Regions from separate parts of the Homo sapiens genome. Here region 1 is linked to region 2. The links come from fine-mapping of genetic effects on gene expression. A gene starts in region 2. The other region holds a variant in brackets. All regions are shown on one strand. Distances are between the middles of the regions.

Region 1 (10,108 bases), 84 kb before region 2:
TGCTGGGTGCTCCTCGGTGCAGCTGTGCCTCTCTGTGTGTCTCTCAGATGGGCCTTCATCCCACTGCAGGCTGTTGGGGGATTCAGGTCTCCCTCTCCCTCACTATTCTGTAAGTTTCTTCAGGATAGAAGCTGTTTTCTTTTAATGTTCCCAACACTTAGCAGTGTTTGGCCTAAAGTGGGTGTTCAAAAAATAGTAATAAATGTAGTTCTATTATGGTCAGCACACACCTTTTAAAACTAAGATTTAAAAATTAGACTTGCCTCCTAGGCTTGCAACACTTCCGCAATATTGAAGAGCTTAGGGAATCCCATGGGAACAGGGACTCACCAGTTTCTCCTGCTTTGCACTTGTCCCTCAGCCCTAAGTGGCCATTTACATCCCTTTTGGTTTCTCATTCCCATTACAAAAAGGCCTCCCTTGAGTATTAACAATAAATTTGTTAATGTTGCCGAAGTGCTTAGAAGATGGAAAGAGCTGTATGTAAGCTAAATATTATTATTAATAATGGTATGAGATTGATTATTCATTTCCACAGAACTTCTCCTATTTGGTCTGCGCAAAAGTGGAAATTGGTTGTGTTAAATTGGCTTACCTGCTCCATTTGGCGCTGTCAGGAAAATCAGTGAGACACACATGAATATTCTTCCATGTACATAGCCATTTTCAAAGTTAGACGATCATCAATATTTATTGTAAGCAGTTATGGAAAAAAATGGATGAATATTTAACACATGGGGGCATTTAGGTATTATTAAATGTGCCTGGCCAAGCAAATTTTGAAGCTATATTTGGGCTTTAACTTACAACAGAAAATCCATATTATTAATTAGATACATGGTCATGTTTGAAAGGCTGTCGCTAGAATGGTCTTGGAATCTGAAGGCAGAGAACAACTTCTGAATGGCAAAAGCTACTCTATGCCCTTATGCCTAGCAAGGAGTTCCAGACAATTGCAGGATGGTGCCTTTAGACATTTCCTGGTCTTACTGATGAGACAACATCCTAATGTCAGATACGAGAAATTCCCAATTTAGAGACACATGTGCTTCATAGGCCCTGGATTCCCATATCACAACTGATAGCGAACTTTGCAAGAAGGGACATTGCTCACTGAAAGGTTTGAAGGAATAGGCTCTGATTCCAGAAGTATCAGAAAGATGATGGAGCAGGGGCTGTGGGAAGAGCATGGGAGTATTAACAGGAAGTAAGAAAAATGTGGGTTCTAATCCAGTGTCAGCTGTGTGGCCTTGGGAAATGACTTTTTAAAATGACTTTTTCTCTATCGACCTTGGTTTTCCTCATAAGTAAAATGAACTATGAGATCTTTAAAGTCCTTTCTGGAGCTAACTCTCCATAACTTTATAGATGTTGTATTGAACTCAGTGTATGAAGCACCCACATTTGTTTTGCCCTACCCAATAACCCTCCTCCAGAACCCACTCAGTGAAGAGCCCCAGACATTGGGCTCTGATTTGGCCTTTGGACAGGAGTCAAAGCGGCTATAGCTTCCAGGCCTGACCCAACTGGGCCCAGAGACTTTGGCTCCTGACAGTACTTCTGGGCTGAGATGGAGCCCCATGACAGAGGGTAAAAGTTAGAAAAATTTTTCTGTGAAGAGCCAGCTAGTAACTATTTTAGATGGTCCCTGTTGCAACTACTCCATTCTGCCCATGAAAGCAGCAACAGAGACTACCTAAGCAAATAGCTGTGGCTGTGTTCCAATAAAACTCTGTGGACACAATTTCGAATTGCATACAGTTTTCCCATGTCACAACATATTTTATGTCTTTTCATTTTTTCCCAATTGTTTAAAAATATACAAGGCATTCTTAGTTCAAGGACACACAAAATCAGGAGGACTGCCCATGGTATGACTGGGGAAGGGTCCACCTGTGGTCTTCAGGGTGAGGGAGGTGAGATGACACATCCTATAGGGGCGCATAATCCATGAAGTGAAAGCAGCACCCACCTCCTCCAGCTCATTAATTCCCCACTAAAGGCGGCAGCACAGAGGAACACACTCTATTAGGGGGTGGAGAGTGTTCCGAGTTCTTCTGTTTCCTGCCCTTTAGGAGTCCACCCACAGGGTATCCCCTGCGAGGCAGCAGAGACACGATGAGCCATGTGAGGGTTCTCTGTATTAGTCAGGGTTCTCCAGAGAAACAGAACCAATAGGTGATATATAATACATACTCCTGTATGTGTGTGTGTATCAGTATGTGTGTGTGTGTGTGTATATAGATCTGTGTGTGTGTGTATATATATATAAAGATCTCTCTCTCTCTAAATATATATATATATATCCCTACTTCTCTCTCTCAGCTAGTGAATGACATTGCTTCGTATTCCACTGAGAAAATGGAAGCATTCTGAAAGAACTTGTAAACGTTCCCAGAACCACATCTACCTGCCTAACAAAAAAATTAATATATATACAAAATTATATATATATAATTATATATGTATATATATATTTATTTATTTATTGAGAGAGGGAGAGAGAGAGAGAAAGGAGAGATTTATTTTAAGGACTGGCTCACACAATTATGGAAGCTGAGAAGTTCCAAGATCTGCTGTTGGCAAGCCGAAGACCCAGGAGAGCTGACTGCATAAGTTCCAGGCGGAGAGCAGAAGAACACCAATGTCTCAGCTCAAAAGTCAGGCAGGTGGAATTCCTTCTTACTAAGAGTTTTTGCTCTATTCAGGCCTTCGGTTGATTGGATGAGGCCCACCCACATTAGGGAGGGTGATCTGCCTTTCTCAGTCTATGGATTCAAATGTTAATCTCATCCAGAAACACCTTCTACAAAAAGTACAAAGGAATTAGCCAGGCATGGTTGTCTGTGCGTGTGGTACCAGCTACTCAGGAGGCTGAGGTGAGAGGATTGCTTGAGCCTGGGAGGCTGAAGCTGCAGTGAGCCACAGTCACACCACTACACTAAGCATAGGCAACAGGGTGAGACATTATCTCAAAAAAAAAAAAAAAAAATCAAGCAAACAAAAAGCAAAGAAATTGAGCAGTAGCTGGAGGCATAAGTGGGTTGAGTGGGAATGTGTATGTATGCGTGTATGTGTGTACATATGTTTAATATGGGTGATATAGTTTGGATAGTTTTCTTCTCCCAAATCTCATGTTGAATTGCAATCCCTGATGTTGGATGTGGGCCTGGTGGGAGGTGTTTGGGTCACGGGTGTGGATCCTTCATGGTGTGGTGCTGTCCTTGTGATAATGAGTTCTCATGAGATCTGGTCATTTAAAAGTATGTGTCACTTCCCTACCCCACTCTCTCTCTCTTGTTCCTGCTTCTGCCATATGACATGCCTGCTCCCCCTTTACCTCTGCCATGATCATAAGCTTCCTGAGGCCTCCCTAGAAGCCAAGCAGATGCCCGCACCATACTTCCTATAAAGATTGCAGAACTCTGAGCCAACTAATCCTCTTTTTCTTATAACCAGTGTCAGGTATTTCTTTATAGCAATACAAGAAGAGCCTAATGCCATGGAGCAACAATCCTATATGTGAAGGGAAATAATCTAGAATAGAAAAGGAAAGTCATAATGCAAGTAAAAGAAGAAAGAATTGCTGAGGTGATGTGCTTGAATAGAAGAGAGGGATTGGGAAGGAGGGCACAAGTGGAGTGTTGGCCATGGGCAGCCCTTGTCTCTCTTCTTCATAGCTGCAGCAGTTTTCTACTGATTTCTTTGCTTCCATAGGAATAAGGGGATGCTGGGTGCAGTGGCTTCTGCCTATAATCCCGGCACTTTGGGAGGCTGAGGCAGGAGGGTCCCTGGAGCCCAGGAATTCAAGAACAGCCTGGGCAACATGGTGAAACCCTGTCTCTACAGAAAAATACAAAAATTTGGCCTGATTTCCTTGCTTCTAATCTTGCCACCCACAGTCTAATCAGTAACTCTCACAAATACAGTAGCAAGAGTGATTTATTTAAAACATTAGTCAGATTATGTCATTTTTCTCAAAACCCTCCAAATGGTGTCACAGCCACTTAAAGTAAGAGCCTGAATCCTTATAAGGCCCCACTGCCCAGCTCCCTGTGGTCTCTGTGACCTTTGATCGCTCTGCTCCAGTCACATTGATCACCTGGCTGTTCCTTGAACGCATCAGGAATCCTCCTGTCTGGAATGTTTCTTCCTCATGGCTCACTCCTTCACCTCCTTCCTATGTCTTCCCAAATGTCCCCTTTCAGTGAAGCTTTCCCAAAACACCCTAAATAAAGTTGCAACCCTTCCCATTTTTTTATGGAGCTTGTGGCAAAAGTGAGGCAAAGAAAGTTTGTGCCTAAGATATCTTGCTTTCAAGTGTCATTAATAATGTAAATTATTCCCAAATAGCACCAACCTAGTTTGTCTACAAACTACCAGAGGCAAGTAGGCACTTGGATCAGATAAATTTTTTAATGTCATAATTTTTCTTCCTTCTGGAGTAAGCAAGCTCGAAACTGCCAGAATGAGTGACCATGAGTTGGCAGTGGCCAGTGTTGCAAGAGATTACAACTCTTGGTCAAGGGCAATGTAGATGGCTTTGCAAACTCATTCCACATTCATGGAATCCCGGACATTTTCAGTGTGGATAGTTTTGTAGCCAGGAGACTTGATACTTGGTCTCAAAGGAAATTAAATCAATATTTTTACACCCTGATTTCATAAACATCCAAATTTTTTTATGAATTTAACTGAGAAATTTGGAATGTTTCTTGCAACATGCATTTCATATAACCCTTAGCATATTAGATTCCCTGAGACTCTAAATGTCCTGCCAACCAAGGAGAAAAAGAGGGCATCCCTTGCTCGAATCCTGCAGAACTTCTTACCCTGGATCCCTTGCACTCACCCTTACTGCAGTCACTCCCAATTGTAGCAATTGTAGCTGCTCTTCTCCAGTTGGTCTGCTGTGCCTTCCAGTGGAATACTTTTTGCTTCTTTGGGGTGTCTCCTATTCTGAAGTCTGTCAGACACACTGATATTTCCTTCTTTCCCTCCTCCCCATGGCCTCTGCACCACCTCCAACACGCTGCAGGGTTTGTGAGTGTTGGAGGTTGGTCTTTACCCACTCATAGTTTGGGGTTTGTGGGAGGACTTTTCACTGGCTTTGTTGTACATGTTGTCCCCCTAGGCAACCAGCCTCTATCCCAAACCTCCCTCTTATAAATCTTATGGTAGGATTTATTATCCAAAGGATAATAATTTAAACCCAGAGAGGGTAAGGAACTTGCCTGGGGCCTTACAGCTTGCAAGCAGTGGATCTGGGGTTGAATCCCCGTCTGTTTGACTTCGAAGTTTTTCTCTTTACATTATTCAAAATGACATCTCTTAATAGTGTGATTATTAACATATGCCATTTACTCTTCTGGGACAATTATCCTCCCTTCGGGTTTTCCCCCGAATCCCTAACTCTGCTCAGTGCCTTCTGTTGTGCTCCACCTACATTTGCTTTTTGGAGAAACATATTCATTCCTGTGGTTTCATCAGTCACTTCTGTACAATGTTTCTATTTTCCCGCTCTCCAAATGTCTCTCCTTTAACACCGTATCCCAGCTCTTACACTGACTTTGGGACATGTTCATAGGGATGTGAATAGGACCTACTTTAGATTCAAGTCTAAAAAAAAAACAAAACAAAAGAGGCAGTGCCTCCCCTGACCAGAACCTCCTCCCCAGGCTCTTCCGCTACATTTCCGCTTGCCTGCTTGATTTCACACCATCTGCTCCATGAAGAGGGGCTTCTCAGTAGAGTTGTCACGAGCATTATGAAGTGTTAGCAGCAGCTGGTTAAGCATATTTTTGCTACAGTAGAAACATGGGGGTTGGATACAACAGCACAATATGGACTATTTTGGCAAGGAAGAGTAATGGGTGACAGATGTGGTACATGATGTTTCCGAGCTAGAGACCAGCATGACCTGAGCATGTCTCAAAGGCAGGATATACCCATCTCCTG[T/G]CATGTGGAAATGAACAGCAGAGCCTGGACAAAAGCAACTCTGGAAAATCTGGCTGAAAAATCAGCTCTGGGGTGTGGGTAAAACCATTACTTTAGATGTGAGAAACTCAGAAAGTCACTGAATTTCTGTGCCCTAGTTTTCTTATCTGCAATGCTGAAAATCCTAGCAGGTACCTCATAGCATTGTAATGAGGATTAATTGAGATAATAGAAGGAAATCTTCTAGTTCAGTGACTAACACATGGTAAAAGAGCTCAATAAATATTAGGAATTATTATTATCTTCTTTCTCACCATTATCTGTATGTTATGTAAAGTTGAACATGCCCACTGAAGTGTGGTATTTTAAAGGAAACATATGAAGCAACATAAAAGCAAAATAGGTTTTATTCATTTATCCATTTACCCAAGAAATATTTATCAAGTGCTCCCATGTGCTGGACATAGTCCCAGCATTAAAGATACCACAGTAAACCAAACAGAAGAGGTCCCTCATGGACACTTTGTTCTAATGAAGGAAGACAGAAAATAAGCCAAGAGAAAATAAATTAAATATACAAACAAAACCAAAAATATTAGAATGTGATATGCATTCTGCAAATAATTAAAACAGATTTCTGAGACAATGACTGAGTGGATACTTTAATTCGGATGGTCTCGAATGGTAAGCAAGAGGCCATCATGTGAAGGTCAGAGACACAGCATGCCCGACACAAGGCATAGGAGTGCAAAAGCTCTAAAGTGGGAAGTATTTTGGTTGTCTCGGGAGGGGAAAGGAGGCCAGGGTGAACTCAGAGAAGTAGGCAGGCCAGATTGTATAGGGCCTTATAAACAAGGGCAAGGAGTTTGGAATTTATTCTGGGGCAACCAGAGTCGTTGGTACTGGATTAGTTCTCTTACAGTAAACAACTGTATAACTGCAAAAATGTATGAAACAATGGCTTTCAGACATTGGATAAAAGGCAGAGCAAAACTGATCCTTGAAAGAAGAGAAGCACCTTGGCTTCTGTGTGGATGCACTTTCTGGAACACAGTGTAGGGAAGTAGGGCACAGGCACAGCATAGCAGTCTCACTGAGATGAGTAGGCAGAGATCCATGTTTGGGGGTGCTAAAGCAGCTGCAATTTCACAGGGCAGAATGCCAGAAAGGAAGGAATTATACCCAGAAGAAACTCCAAAAATCTGCATAGGAGTTCTCTTCAGTCTTCGGCCAAATATTAAGGTACACATGCAAAGGGTAAGGCTGATGGCTGGGCTGAGAGTAGCTTCTGGGGAGCTGTAAGCTGAACAGAGATTTCAAAGGTCAAACAGTGCTCTTAAGGACAGATTGAACACTGCACAAGAGAAAAACAATAGAAACTGGCTAAACTAAAACACACAGAGAGAGATAACCCTGAAAAAATGGAAGAGAAACTTACTGACTTGTAGGACATTGTCAAGCAGTCTCACATGTGTAATTGGAATCCAGAAGGAGAAGAGAGATATTTGGATAAATGATGCTCTAAAACTTTCCAAATTTAAAGAAAAATATTAATTTACATTCAAACAGCTCAAACAAACCGCAAGCAAGATAAATACAAAGAAAATCATACCTAAGCACATTACAGTCAAATTGCCATAAATAAAAAAGAGAAAATAGTAAAAGCACCAAAAAAAGACACATTGCATTTGAAGGAACAATGATAAGATTAACATGTCTTCTTATAAGAAACAAGGCAAGTTAGAAGATGGAACAACATCTTTGAAATACTGCCAAAAAAAAAAAAGTCAACCTAAGTTTTAGATCCAGCAAATGTATCCACCAAAAAATTAAGGCAAAAATAAAGCTATTTTCTGATAAATAAAAGCTGAGAGAATTTGTCACTCTGGGAATTGTACTATGAGAAATGTTAAAGAACTTGGAAAGATGGAGGACTGGAGGAGGTGGGAGGGAGCTCAATGGATATGAGGTGAGACAGGAGATAGGAGGAAGAAAAGGGAATCACAATGTAGATGGTCTGAAACTTATCATGGGGTTGCATCCTAATAAACCCATCCTAAGTTGGAAATATTGAAAAACTAAATGCATTTAATACATCTAACCTGCTGAACATGATAGCTTAGCCTAATCTATCTTAAACATGCTCAGAAAATAACATTAACCTACAATTGGGCAACATCATCTGCAACACAGCACACTGTGAAATATTGGTTGTTGAGCTTTGTGATTGCGTGGTTGACTGGGAGCTGCAGCTCACTGCCACTGCCCAGCAACCAGAGAGAATATTCTACTGCATATTGCTATCCCAGGAAAAGTTCAAAATTCAAAATTTGAATATGGCTTCTGTTCAACATATTGCTTTTGCACCAGCATTAAGTCAAAAAAATTATAAGTCGAACCATTGTAAATTGTTTGACTTATAATTGTAATGCCTTCATCTGTAATGCCTTCATTAGATTGCTAAATCAAAATGTCCTTCAGGAAAACAAAGGAAAATGATACCAGATGGACACTCATACCTATACAGAGAAATGAAGAGTACTTTTAATTGTTAATATGTGAATAAATATAAAAGACTTCTCTCTGGCCAGGTGCAGTGGCTCATGCCTGTAATCCCAACACTTGGGGAGGCCAAGGTGGGTGGATTGCTTGGGCTCAGGAGTTCGAGACCAGCCTGGGCAACCTGGCAAAACCCTATCTCTACAAAAAATACAAAAATTAGCTGGGTGTGGCGGCATGTACCTGTAGTCCCTGTTATTCTGGAGGCTGGGTGGAAGGATGGCTTGAACCTGGGAGGTGGAGGTTTCAGTGAGCTGAGATTGCACTACCGTACCCTAGCGTGGGTGACAGAGCCAGATCCTTTCTCAAAAAAGGGAAAAGAAAAGACTTCTCTCCCTCACTTCTTAATCTCTTTAAGAAATACTTGTTTAAAGCAAAATGATAAAAATGTATCATGGAGTTTGTAAAATGTAGGAGTAAAATGTATGTCAATAACTGTACCAGGGACAGAAGAGGGCAAGTGAAAGCATACTGTTGTAGGTTTCTTATACATGAAGTAGTCTAATATTTTTTCAAGGTAGACTGCATTAAGTTAGTAGAGCTTATTGTAATCTCAGAGGACCCAATAAAAAAAACTTTAAATGAAGCACAACTAAAATGTTAATAGAGGAAATAAAGTAAAACAATAAAAATAATTAACACAGAAAAAGGCAGTAAAAAAGGATAAAAGGGACAAAACCCAGATATCATAAATGGAGAAAAAATAAAAGAAGGTAGTCTTAATTCAATTGTATTACTAATTACATGAAGGCAGATATCTTCAGACTAGATAAAAGGGCAAGAGCCAGACATAGGCTATTTACAACACGTATGCTTTAAATAAAAAGACACAAGTAAGTTAAATATATAAGAACTTAAGAAACATAAAACTAGTTGTAAGGAAGCAGAAATAGCTATATTAATATCAGACAAAGAGACTTTAAAGCAAAAAGTATCATTAGGGATAAAGGAGATATCTCATAATGATAAAAGAATCAACCCATTAAGAAGACATAATAATCCTAAACATGTATGCAACTAATAACAGAGTTTCAAAATACATGAAGCAAAAACTGACAGAAATAAAGGGAGAAATAAATCTACAATCATAACAGAAGATTTTTAAGATCCCTTTCTAGTAATTGATAGAACAAGTAGATATGTATGATGAGAAGCCATTGGCAGGTTTTAGGCCAAGGCAAGCACAATCTTATTTGATTTATAAAGACTGCTCTGTCTTCAAAGTGGAAAATGGATTGTACAGAAAACCAGGAAAAAGTTAAGAGGTTAATACAGTAGACCAAGCAAGAATGTTACTGGCCTGAACTAAGGTGGCAGTGATGGCTCTGGGGAAAATGGACAGATTTGAATATCCCCTCTTGAGATATCCACAACCAGCCAAGTATAAGAGCCTTCTAGGCATATACTTGCTCAATCTTTGACTCTACTTCTCATGCAGTAAGTAAAGCTAGAATAAACAACTAGCTGTATTAGCCAGGTGTGGGGGTGGGTAGTCCCAGCTACTTGAGGCTGAGGCAGGAGAATCACTTGAGTCCAGGTGTTCGAGGCTGCAGTGAGGCATGATTGTACCATGATACTCCAGCCTCGGTGACAGAGCAAGACCTTGCCTCCA
Region 2 (10,108 bases):
TGCTTTCAAAGTGACAAAGTGATACACGCATGCAAATTACTGCTGTTGAAATGCATCCATTCTTCTGGCTACCAACAGACCCTGGGTCTTATATTTTCCATATTCATTCAAGGTGCCAAATGCTAAAGTCTTTCCTAATGCTGTGATTTTAGCCTCCCTGTAAGTCTAAAGGAATCTAACTGATCCATGGAAATGTTCTTTTTTTTTTTTTTTTTTTTTTCTCCTGTAGCAGGATATGGGTGAGACAATACATACAGGTAAGGTTTCGTTTACCTGTGAGGGTAGTATATGCTCCCCACTCCAGAACACTACAAAACGGCCAGACAAGTCTATACCAAATTGCGTCTTTTGAAGAGGCCATTTTTCTCTTTCTCAGAAAAGGCATTGGACACCATTCGCCACTTTGTTTAGAAATAAATTAGTCTGGTATGGATTGGTTAATAGGTCCAACAACTGAACAAAGCTGACAGAGGGTATATTCTAATTGCCAAGCAAAATTATATCTAAATTTTTTGGAAATATTTTCTATGACTGTTCTTTTGCTGAGACTCAAGGGAAGCAAAAACAAAACAACTCCCTGTCCCACTCCCATCATGTGTGAGATTTTCTCAAAGATTTTCTGGAGTTGCGATATTAGACTATAGGTGTCTGCTTATACTTATTTATTCTGTCCATCCATTGGTTTTACTAATCGTAAAAGTCTAGGGCAACTGTAACTCATTTATCTTCATCATGCTCCAGTGAGTAAAAGAACTGCCAACTTTTTATCCAATTTACCAGTAAAGAACCTAAATCTGAAATAGGAGGATTTGCACAGTCATAATCTTGCATCCAGTTCAGTACTGTTCACTCTTCTTCCTTCTTTAATTAATTCTGGATCATCCTTCCCCTCTACAATGCTGTAACTTTCAAAGATTGAGTCCTTAGAGTAAAGATTCTCAAACCTGGCTGCACATTAGAATCACCTGGGGAGTGTTAAAAACACACTCTAAAGCCCAGGCCCCATCCCAGAGGGTCTGATTTAATTGGTCAGGGGTGGATCCCAGCATCAGTGTATTTTAAAAGCTCCCCTGATAATTTTAATGTGCAGCCAGGAAGGAGAAACACTAATCTAAGGCTGAGTTTCTCTGGGACTGGCTATTCTGTGTAATGGGGGCTGTCCTGGGCATGGTAGGATATTTAGCAGCCTCCTTGGCATCTATACACCTAGGTACCAGCAGTGCCCACCTCCAGTTGTGAAAACCAAAAATGTCTCCAGACACTGCCAAATCACACCTGGGGAGCATAAAATCACCCCCAGTTGAGAACCACTGATTTAGGGGGCTATATAAATAAATTGTAGGAGACCCACACTCTAGAATAAGTAATGCAGCTTCCAGAAGCAATGAGCCAGGGGTATATATACAGCAAAAGGAATATAAGCACAAATTGAGTGCAGGGGGAATGCTGGTGGCGGGGGGCGGGGGGAAAGAAAGATAATGATATCAGATTATATCTATACTAAATTAAAGCACATCCACAAATGACCCTGTAATTTTCAGAAACGCACATAGGAGTGGGTGTCTGTGGTGGGAAGGAGAAGATGGACGTACATTAAGAGCCTCTGCTGGTTTCTAAGAAGGAGTTTATACAAAGATGAGACAGGAAACTCTGCCTCAGAGACCAGCTCATTCCCATCTAAGCTGAATCTCTTGCCATGAAACCCAAGTCCCTTTCCTTTATGTTTTTTTCTCATCAAACATGTTGGAGATAACACTGCCTGTTGATGGTGGTGACAACATCCAAAGACACTCAAAGGAGGGCTCCAATTCCATAATTCCTATAAAAATAGCTTCCATGAAATGTCATTAGCTTCATGATTTGTGAAATGAAGATAATTATACTCCCTTCAAAGCTTTGAGGTAACGACTGAATGAGAGAATGCCTAGGAAAACATTTTAAAATGCTAGAGCTTTGTAAAATGGTAAAGCTTTATGGCAATCATCTTCGGAAAAATGAGTTCTACTGTGTATTATGCTACAGCTAAATAACTAACAAAGGTTTTTCTAGAAAAAACAGTTAATATCTTTTTGTTTGTACAAGTTCTCTTTGATCTGCATGACGGCATAACATAGCAAGAATTTGAATCAATTAACTTTCTGGGAAGTATGGAATATAAAATATTATTGCTTTTTGCTAATTAAAATGATCAGATTTCAAGGGATCACAAACAACTACTATTTAATTCTGGCATTTTCATGTTTTTCAGATTCTATATAAATTGGGGCTTTTTCAAAAGTGTTTTAGGATGTTAAATACCTTTTTGATGAAACAGGAAAAAGCAAACTTTATTTTAAAAGTATAAATCTTCCCCCCTTTTGGATCCTTTCCAACTACTCCCTGACTTGTAAACAGTAAAAATATGGACTAAATAAATAAATATATAAACCCCACAATACTTTAAACATATAATTTAAACATGTTAACTAACATTAATGCTTCTAAAGGGCTTATCCTTTAGATACGGTCAAATGACTAAAATCATTTAATCTCAGTAATTAAAATAAGATATTAAATGATTTAGAACTAAGATCAACCAATTTTGAAAACAAAATTTAAATCCTATGTAATTTGTAAAATAGTTTGGATTTGATTTTTCCCTTAATTGTCAATGTTGAGAGTGAAAATATGGCATTTCATTTTGACTTTCGGAATGTTCAGAATAAAGTTTACAATTTCTCAGATTCCATGTAATCCCTGAATTCATCCTAAAGTTACTGGACCAACGTAAGTTTCTTCTTAATGAAATACCAAGTGGGCACTTTCTTTTCAGAATTCACCAGCTATAAAATAGGGAGACCTCTGCATTTTAGATAAACTGTTTTCAGGCTAAATCTCTAATTATTGGGACTAGAATTTTCAAATATGGGAGTGAGACTGCAAAAAAAACACAGTGAAGAAGAAAAGAAAATAGCTCTATTTGTCTTTTTCTAAATACTGTCATTCAATTAGCCCTGGGCAGGCCGGAAAGTCTGACAATGTCTGTGGCAACCCTGCAGTTTACTCCTTGGTTTGGTTTTCTTTGGTGGTCGTTCTGTTTCTCCTAGACACCTTGCTAGCGTTTCCCCCTACAGCATTTCTCTGGCGCATTCTTGCCCCTTTCACTGGGTACTTTCGAGATTTCTGGACCGGGCCCCACTGCCGTAAGAACCACAACAAACCATAAGAGGTGAGTGAGAGGAGATTGCCAGCCTACCAGCCTGGGGAACCTGAATCTGGGGATCACGACTCTGTGACTGTAGTTGCACAAAATGGAAGGTACCCATTTTGTGTAGAGTGTGCCCTGTACAAACATTTACCTAGAGCTGACTAAGTGCCTGATACTGTCCTGCCCTGGGATAGAGCGAAGGAAAAGAAACAATCCCTTTCCCTAACATCCCCAGGATCTCCTGGTGTGCAGGCACTGGCGCTCCCGGAATCGGTCCCGCGGTCCCACCCACCTCTGCCTGGTGATGAGGTTGATGTAGTGTCGCAGCGCCGAGTAGTATCTGGCCATGTCCTCCGCTGGTGCGTCCTCGCCCGGGTTGTCCGGCTTGGAGGGGTACGCCTCGGCCAGCGCACCCAGGCACACGAGCAGGGACAGGGCGAGGGTCAGTCCGGACAGCCCCAGTCGCTTGTTACCTAGCATCTGCAGGCACAGAAGGCTCAACGGACGGGCTTGGGGATTCAGAGCACCCACGCGCAGCACCTCCCTCCTCTGCCCCCCGCGCTCCTCCTCCTGCTACCACACGCGACCCCCAATCCGCTCTCGTCCCAGTCCCGCAGAGAGAACCCAGGAGTGGCTAGCACCACCTTGCGGGCTCCGGGCGCCGTCCGGTCGGGACCTGCCCCTCTGCTCCACCTGAAAACTTCGCGCAACTTCGTTCGAAGTCTCAGGGACCAAGAAGCGCGCGGCGAGAGTGCAAGGTGGGGGCCCCGCCAGTTTAGCATTCAAAACCGAATTGGAAGTTCTTCCTGCTGGGTCACTTTTCTCCCTTCTTGCCCAAACTCTTGTCTGGGAAGAAAAGTTTCTTCTCTGTTACTTCTGGTCTGCCTAGCTTCAGGGGATCAACGCTGACAGCAGAGATCACCTCGGGGTGACGACTGCGGTGGGGAAGGGGAAAGAGAATTGCTCCCTGGGCCAGAATTGCTCCAAAGAGATTTGGAGCCCAAGAATCCAGGGAGGTGGCAGGGCGCGGGGCTCTAGAGCTCCAGGGATTCCTCACTCGATGGCGCTGCCGGGGAAACCTTCCTACCGCGCACCGCTTCCTGGGCCTCAAGGCGGCGACCCGCAGGGAGACCGCCAGCTGCCTTGGGATAGCGGTCCCGGGTTCTCCCTCCATATCTGCTAAAAGGTAACTCAGAAGAACCGCCCAGCGGGAAGGGCCCGGGAGAAGGGCCGTGGACAATCAGAGGGGAGCAGAGGAACAAGTGGAATTTAGCCGCCAAGAGGGCTGGTCCGCGTCGGGGCGCGGAGCCGGCATAGTCCGCTGGGGAGTGGAGCGCGATCATCCCAGGGCCCCAGGGCTCCACAGAGCGGGAGGCTGCGTCTCTAGCAAGTTCGCGGGCGCCCCGTTCGCTCCCACCCCTAGACAGACGGGTCGTAGCACTCACGGTGGCTGGCGCGCGGGCGTGGCTGGGCGGCAAGTACTATGCTGTCGGGCGAGCGTCTCCGAGGGGTGAGAGCCAGCGGATGGGGTGCAGAGAGCGGGTCGCGACAGGGCTTTTATGGAGCTTCCTCGCCGCGGCAGGAGGGGCCTCGGGCAGTCACGCTTGGGTGACTCCCACCCGCCACTTCCCGCCCCTGAGTGGCGGGGGGAGGGGGCTGGAACCGCAGCCGCACGAGTGTCGACTTAGGGAGCCACCCACACCCCAACCCTCCCGCCCCAGGCACTGCCTGAAGAAGCGGGGCCTGGGACCGCGTGAGCGAGGCAGCGCACTCCGAGCGCGCTGGACAACACCAAAGCCCAAGTATCTGCCCTCGGGCAGTGCCCGATCCCTGCTTTCCTTCTTTCCTTCTTTCCTTCACGCCCCGTCTAGTCCTGCCAGAGATAGGAGCAGCCCAGACGATTCTTGTCTCCTGCCAACAGGACTACCAACCCACTGGGTGCCGGAGTAGGAAGCACCTGAATCCTCTTTGTGGTGGGGCATCTCCACGACTAGCGCGGCATCCTCGCCGGGCACAACTGCGCGCTGTTGGAGTGAGGCAACTGGGCGCACAGATTTTTCCTGTACTTAGAACAAGTCGGAGGCAGCTGCCGGAAGTCTCCGGCTAGAGGGTCCCAAAGCTGCGCTCCCCACCCCACCCCCGCCCGTGGTTTCAGGGGCTTCTGCCCCTTCTCTCAGCTGGTTTTTCTAGATCAGCCTTCCTCAAGTACTCGCTCAGACGCAGCGAGCCAGGCTCGGTCGAGACATGAGTGTGGCGACTCAAAATTCCCCAGAGGGGGAACACGGTAAACCTATTCCCCCAGTTTGCTGAAAAAGAGCCACGCTTCCAGCTTCTAGAGACTCTTTTAAGCTCAATTTTAAAAATATATATTTTTTCTTTTTTGGTCCAAAGTGACGGTGGTTAAATGAACAACAGTTTCTGTCTTATTTACTAACCCTTGTATAGTCCTATGTACGTTCAATTAACGTTGAGAATGTGGGTTCTGATTAAGATGAAACATGTTAAAAACGATGAACATTAATTTGCTCATCGCGTTAAACCTGTTGAATGAATATGCAAGATACAGAAACTATTATTACAGGATCAAGATTTTATGCAGTGGACTGAGATCTGAAAGTTCCGTGAATGAATGCTCCTGTATCTTTCTAAATAAAATGGCATTTTATTTCTAAATGAAATATAAGTCTGAATCTTTCTAAATAAAAAGGCATGTTGGGAAATTAAAGCATTAAGTTCCATGTTATTTTAATGCTAAAAGGACAAGTGATTCTGTTAAACTGACACTTAGTTTTTGTGCTGTTCCAACAGCATTGAATTAAATATCAAAAACCGTGAAGCAAACAATCCTTTGCATGTATGTGTTTGTGTGTTTGTGGGATCAAACTATAATTTTGGAGACCAACATCCCTTTCACTTGGCAACTGCTTCTCTTTCTGTATTACACAAACATATGCTGAGGACACAAAAATCAAGGCTCTCAGAGTTGCTCGGGGGTGCTTACAAGACACAGCCTTCGGTAAAAGTGCAAAACATCTTCTAACTTAGAGCTCTTCCTAGATAAAGGGAAAGTTACAGTCCACTTTTCAATAAAATAATCTTATTTTAGAGTGTATCACAGATTCATATCAATTAAAATCTGAACTTAAAATGTATCACTGAATTTGGGAAAAATTACTTCTAGGAAGGCCCACACCACTATTGAGAGAAGAACACTGTGGAGGCTTGATTAATTTAGCTTAAGATAATGTCATTGATTCTCAAGAATAAGAACTTATTCTGAGGGTTAAGGATTCAGAGAATAAAAAATAGGGGGTGATATGCCCTACATGTGCTTACATCCTTATCTCCTTTCTCTCCAGTCCAAGCCACATCCCCTGGCCAAAATACAAACAAAACCAACTGTTGGCAACTCAACCCTGCATCTTCTCCTAGCTGCTGAGCCATTTCTCTCCTTTGTTTCAAAGTCAAGTTGTTTATTTCTAACAGCTTTGTTAAGATAACATTGAGATACTGTTGAGCTTGTTGAGATTCAAAAGGAGGTGAATCAGTGGAGACTAGAGAAGGTAATGACCGAGAGAAGTCAAATAACCGGTAAAGGTCCATGTGGTTTGCAATTAGGAGGTCTTACTGATAGCAGGTTCATAGCTTGATTCAGATAGAACCTGGACCACATGAAACCCAGTGGTTTCATGACTAAACCTAAGGTAAAGAAGCAGAAGGAATGAATAGATACTGCTGAATATATACAAAGCTACAAATGTGTAAAATATTCAATTGGATATATTCTTACACATATGCATGTGTGTTATATGCTCAGGAAGCCATCACTGAAACCAAGAAAATGAAGATTATACATCACTTCCCCAAATTTCCACATGTACCTTTGTAATTCCTTCCTTTTGCCTCTTCCTCACCCCCTCCTCCATTGATCTGCTATCACTAGAGATTTGTTTGCGTTTTCTAGAATTGCACATAAATATAGTTCCACGGTAGGTACTCTTTGTCTGACTTCTTTCACTTAGCATCATTATTTTTGAATCCACTCACATTGTTAAATGTAGCAATAGTTTATTCTTTTTTATTGCTGGGCAGTATTTCATTATATGATATACTTCAAAATTTTTAATCAATTCTACTGCTCATGAATTTTTGGTTATTTTCACTTGAAACTTTTACGAATAAAGCTGCCTTGACATTCATATGCAAGTCTTTGTATGGACATAAAGCCTTTAATTCTCTTGGAAAATACTTAAAACCAGAATGGCTGAGTCAGACGGTGAGTGTATATTGGCCCACAGTTTGTTGGTGATCTGTTTTTGCTTCTGTTTTGCTCATTTTTTCCTTCATATTTTATTTTGGATAGTCTCTATTGCTATGTCTGTGAGTTCACTAATGTTTTCTTCTGTAATATCTGATTACTGCCAATCCTATCCAGTGTATTTTGCACCTTATACCTGGTAGCTTTCATCTCTAGAGTTTCAACTTGAATCTTTTTTTTAAGTTACAGGACAATATAAAGCAATGAATCTTTTTTATATCTTCCGTATCTAAACGTGTCCACTCTTCTCTCTAGCTTCTTGAATATACATTAATAATAACTTTTGTACTACTAACATCTGTGTGATTTTTGTATACTTTGGGTTGATTGATTTTTCTCCACATTATGGCTTATATTTTTCTTCTTCTTTGTGTGCCTGATAATTTTTGATAGGATGTCAGATATTGTGGATTTTACCTTGTTATTTGTTTTTTTGTCTTTCTATGACTGTTCTTGAGCTTGTTCTGAGACAATTAAAAATTTAAAGACAGTTTTATCCATTCAGGTCTTGGATGTGAGTTTTGTTAGGTGGGACCAGAGCTGGTTTTAGACTAGGTTTACTCTTTCCACACTTTGAGGCAAAATTCCTTCTTTTTACTTTAACTGGTAACTGACTTCCCCCCAACACGCACACCTCAAATTGCACAGCTCTCCCCTCTGGCTGTTCAGATAGACACTATTCCCAGCCCTTGGTCAGCATCAGACACAGTTTACCCTTATCTTTTTGTGTAGTTCTTTTCCTGGTCTCAGGTGGTTTGTTCTTGTGTATAATCTGATCAATAATCAACTAAATCCTCAAGGGGGACACCCTTCAGACTTTCAGAGTATTCTTTCTTTTACCTGATAATCTTCCTGTGGACACTAGCTGCCCTGGCTCCCTACACTTCCAGCCCCAGCTCCTTGGCCAGGATGATTCAATTCCTTCCTTCTGCACTGTAGCCTGGATGACTCCTTCAGGCAGTGTATTCTCATGCTGCTATGAAGAAATATCCAAGACTGGGTAATTTATAAAGGAAAGAGGTTTAATTGACTCACAGTTCTGTATGGCTGGAGAGCCCTCAGGAAACTTACAATTATGGTGGAAGGGGAAGCAAACACGTCCTTCTTCATATTGCAGCTGGAGAGAGAAGTGGCGAGCAAAGGGGAAAAAACCTTTTATAAAACCATCAGATCTTGTGAGAATTCACTCACTATCATGAGAACAGCAGCATGTAGGTAACTGCCCCCATGATTCAATTATCTCACACCAGGTCCCTCCCACAACACGTGGGGATTAAGGAAACTACAATTCAAGATGGGATTTGGGTGAGGACACAGCCAAACCATATCAGGCAGTGATCTGGGACCATTGTATGGCTCTTGTCATTTGTTTTCTATCTCTAAGATATTACTGTCCTTTACTGATGTCCAATGTTTTAAGTGTTGTTTCATCTATTTTTGTCTAGTGTTTTAGTTGTTTCAGCAGGGAGGGTAAATCCAGTTCCTGTTTCTTCATCTTGGCCAGAAGAGCAAGTCTTGTAGCAAGGCTTCTTTAAAAAGATGTTTCTATTCATTGTCTCTGGTTATTCACCATAGGTGTAGTCATGAAACCACTGTGATCTAGGTTCTATCTGAATCAAGTTATAAACCTGCTATCAGTAAGACCTTCTAATTGCAAACCACATGGATCTTTATCAGATATTTGACATCTCTTAACCATTACTTTCTCTTGTCTCTCTGATTCACCTCCTTTTTCTCTGAATGTACCACCATCTCCTTTGCTGACTCACCCTTCTGTACCCATAGTCTTAGCCTTAACCTTTCTACTGCACACATAAGCTCATCTACTCCTACAGCTTATGATCCTGAAATCTCTCCCTTCAGCTCAGATTTCATACCTGGAAACCAGGGCGATACGTCTAGCTCAGAAAAACTCCATCAAGGGCCTCAAATTTAGATTATCAAAGTGGAGCTTCCACTAACATGAATGTCTAATTAAATATCATATGAAGTGTAAAATGTTTTCAAAATTCTTCCATTGAACTATAAGGCCCCACATATTTTGGACCCTACATACCTCCTAGGCTCATCTAACATAATTTTTTTCTTCACTCCCTGTATTTCTGTCCATTGTCCTCCTTTCTGCTCCTTAAATATGCCAATCAGCTTTCCTATTTGGGCCTTCATTGTGCTGTGTCTGCTCTCTGAGATATTCTCTCTCCCTACTCTTTACCTGGCCAACACCTACACAACCTTCTGGGTTTACCTTGAAATATTTTCTGAGTGTTCTTTAGGTCCGTTCCAAGAGGCCAAATAGGAACAGCTCTGGTCTGCACCTCCCAGCTGATCGACGCAGAAGATGGGTGATTTCTGCATTTCCAACTGAGGTACCTGGTTCATCTCACTGGGACTGGGCGGACAAAGAGTGCAGCCCACGGAGGGCAAGTCAAAGCAGGGGTGGGCATCGCCTCACCCAGGAAGTGCAAGGAGTCAGGGGATTTCCCTTTCCTAGCCAAGGGAAGCCATGACTGACTGTACCGGGAAAATTGGGACACTGCCACCTAAATACTGTGCTGTTCCCACGGTTTTAGCAAACAGCACACCAGGAAATTATATCCCACACA

Which allele goes with the higher level. Positions count from the first base shown, and alleles are read on the strand shown. Sizes are in standard deviations (SD) of each study's normalised expression.
As copies of T replace G in region 1, the expression in pancreas of the gene that starts at base 4,718 in region 2 goes up (moderate effect, 0.45 SD a copy in GTEx).

Evidence for each region.
Region 1: its variant is fine-mapped to the expression of NPY in pancreas (GTEx, PIP above 0.99).

The regions. Positions count from the first base shown.
Region 1 is chr7:24,362,751-24,372,858 of GRCh38, reverse strand. All of the region lies in intron 1 of LOC107986777 (a long non-coding RNA gene), which reads left to right. Among named protein-coding and RNA genes, the nearest start is that of NPY, 84 kb to the right of the region's middle. The variant T/G (reference allele first, on the strand shown) is at 5,959.
Region 2 is chr7:24,278,800-24,288,907 of GRCh38, reverse strand. NPY (neuropeptide Y) reads right to left here and starts at 4,718. Exons shown (of 4, transcript NM_000905.4): 1 at 4,633-4,718; 2 at 3,480-3,667. The coding sequence starts at 3,667. All of the region lies in intron 2 of LOC107986777 (a long non-coding RNA gene), which reads left to right. RefSeq lists an enhancer at 9,584-10,108.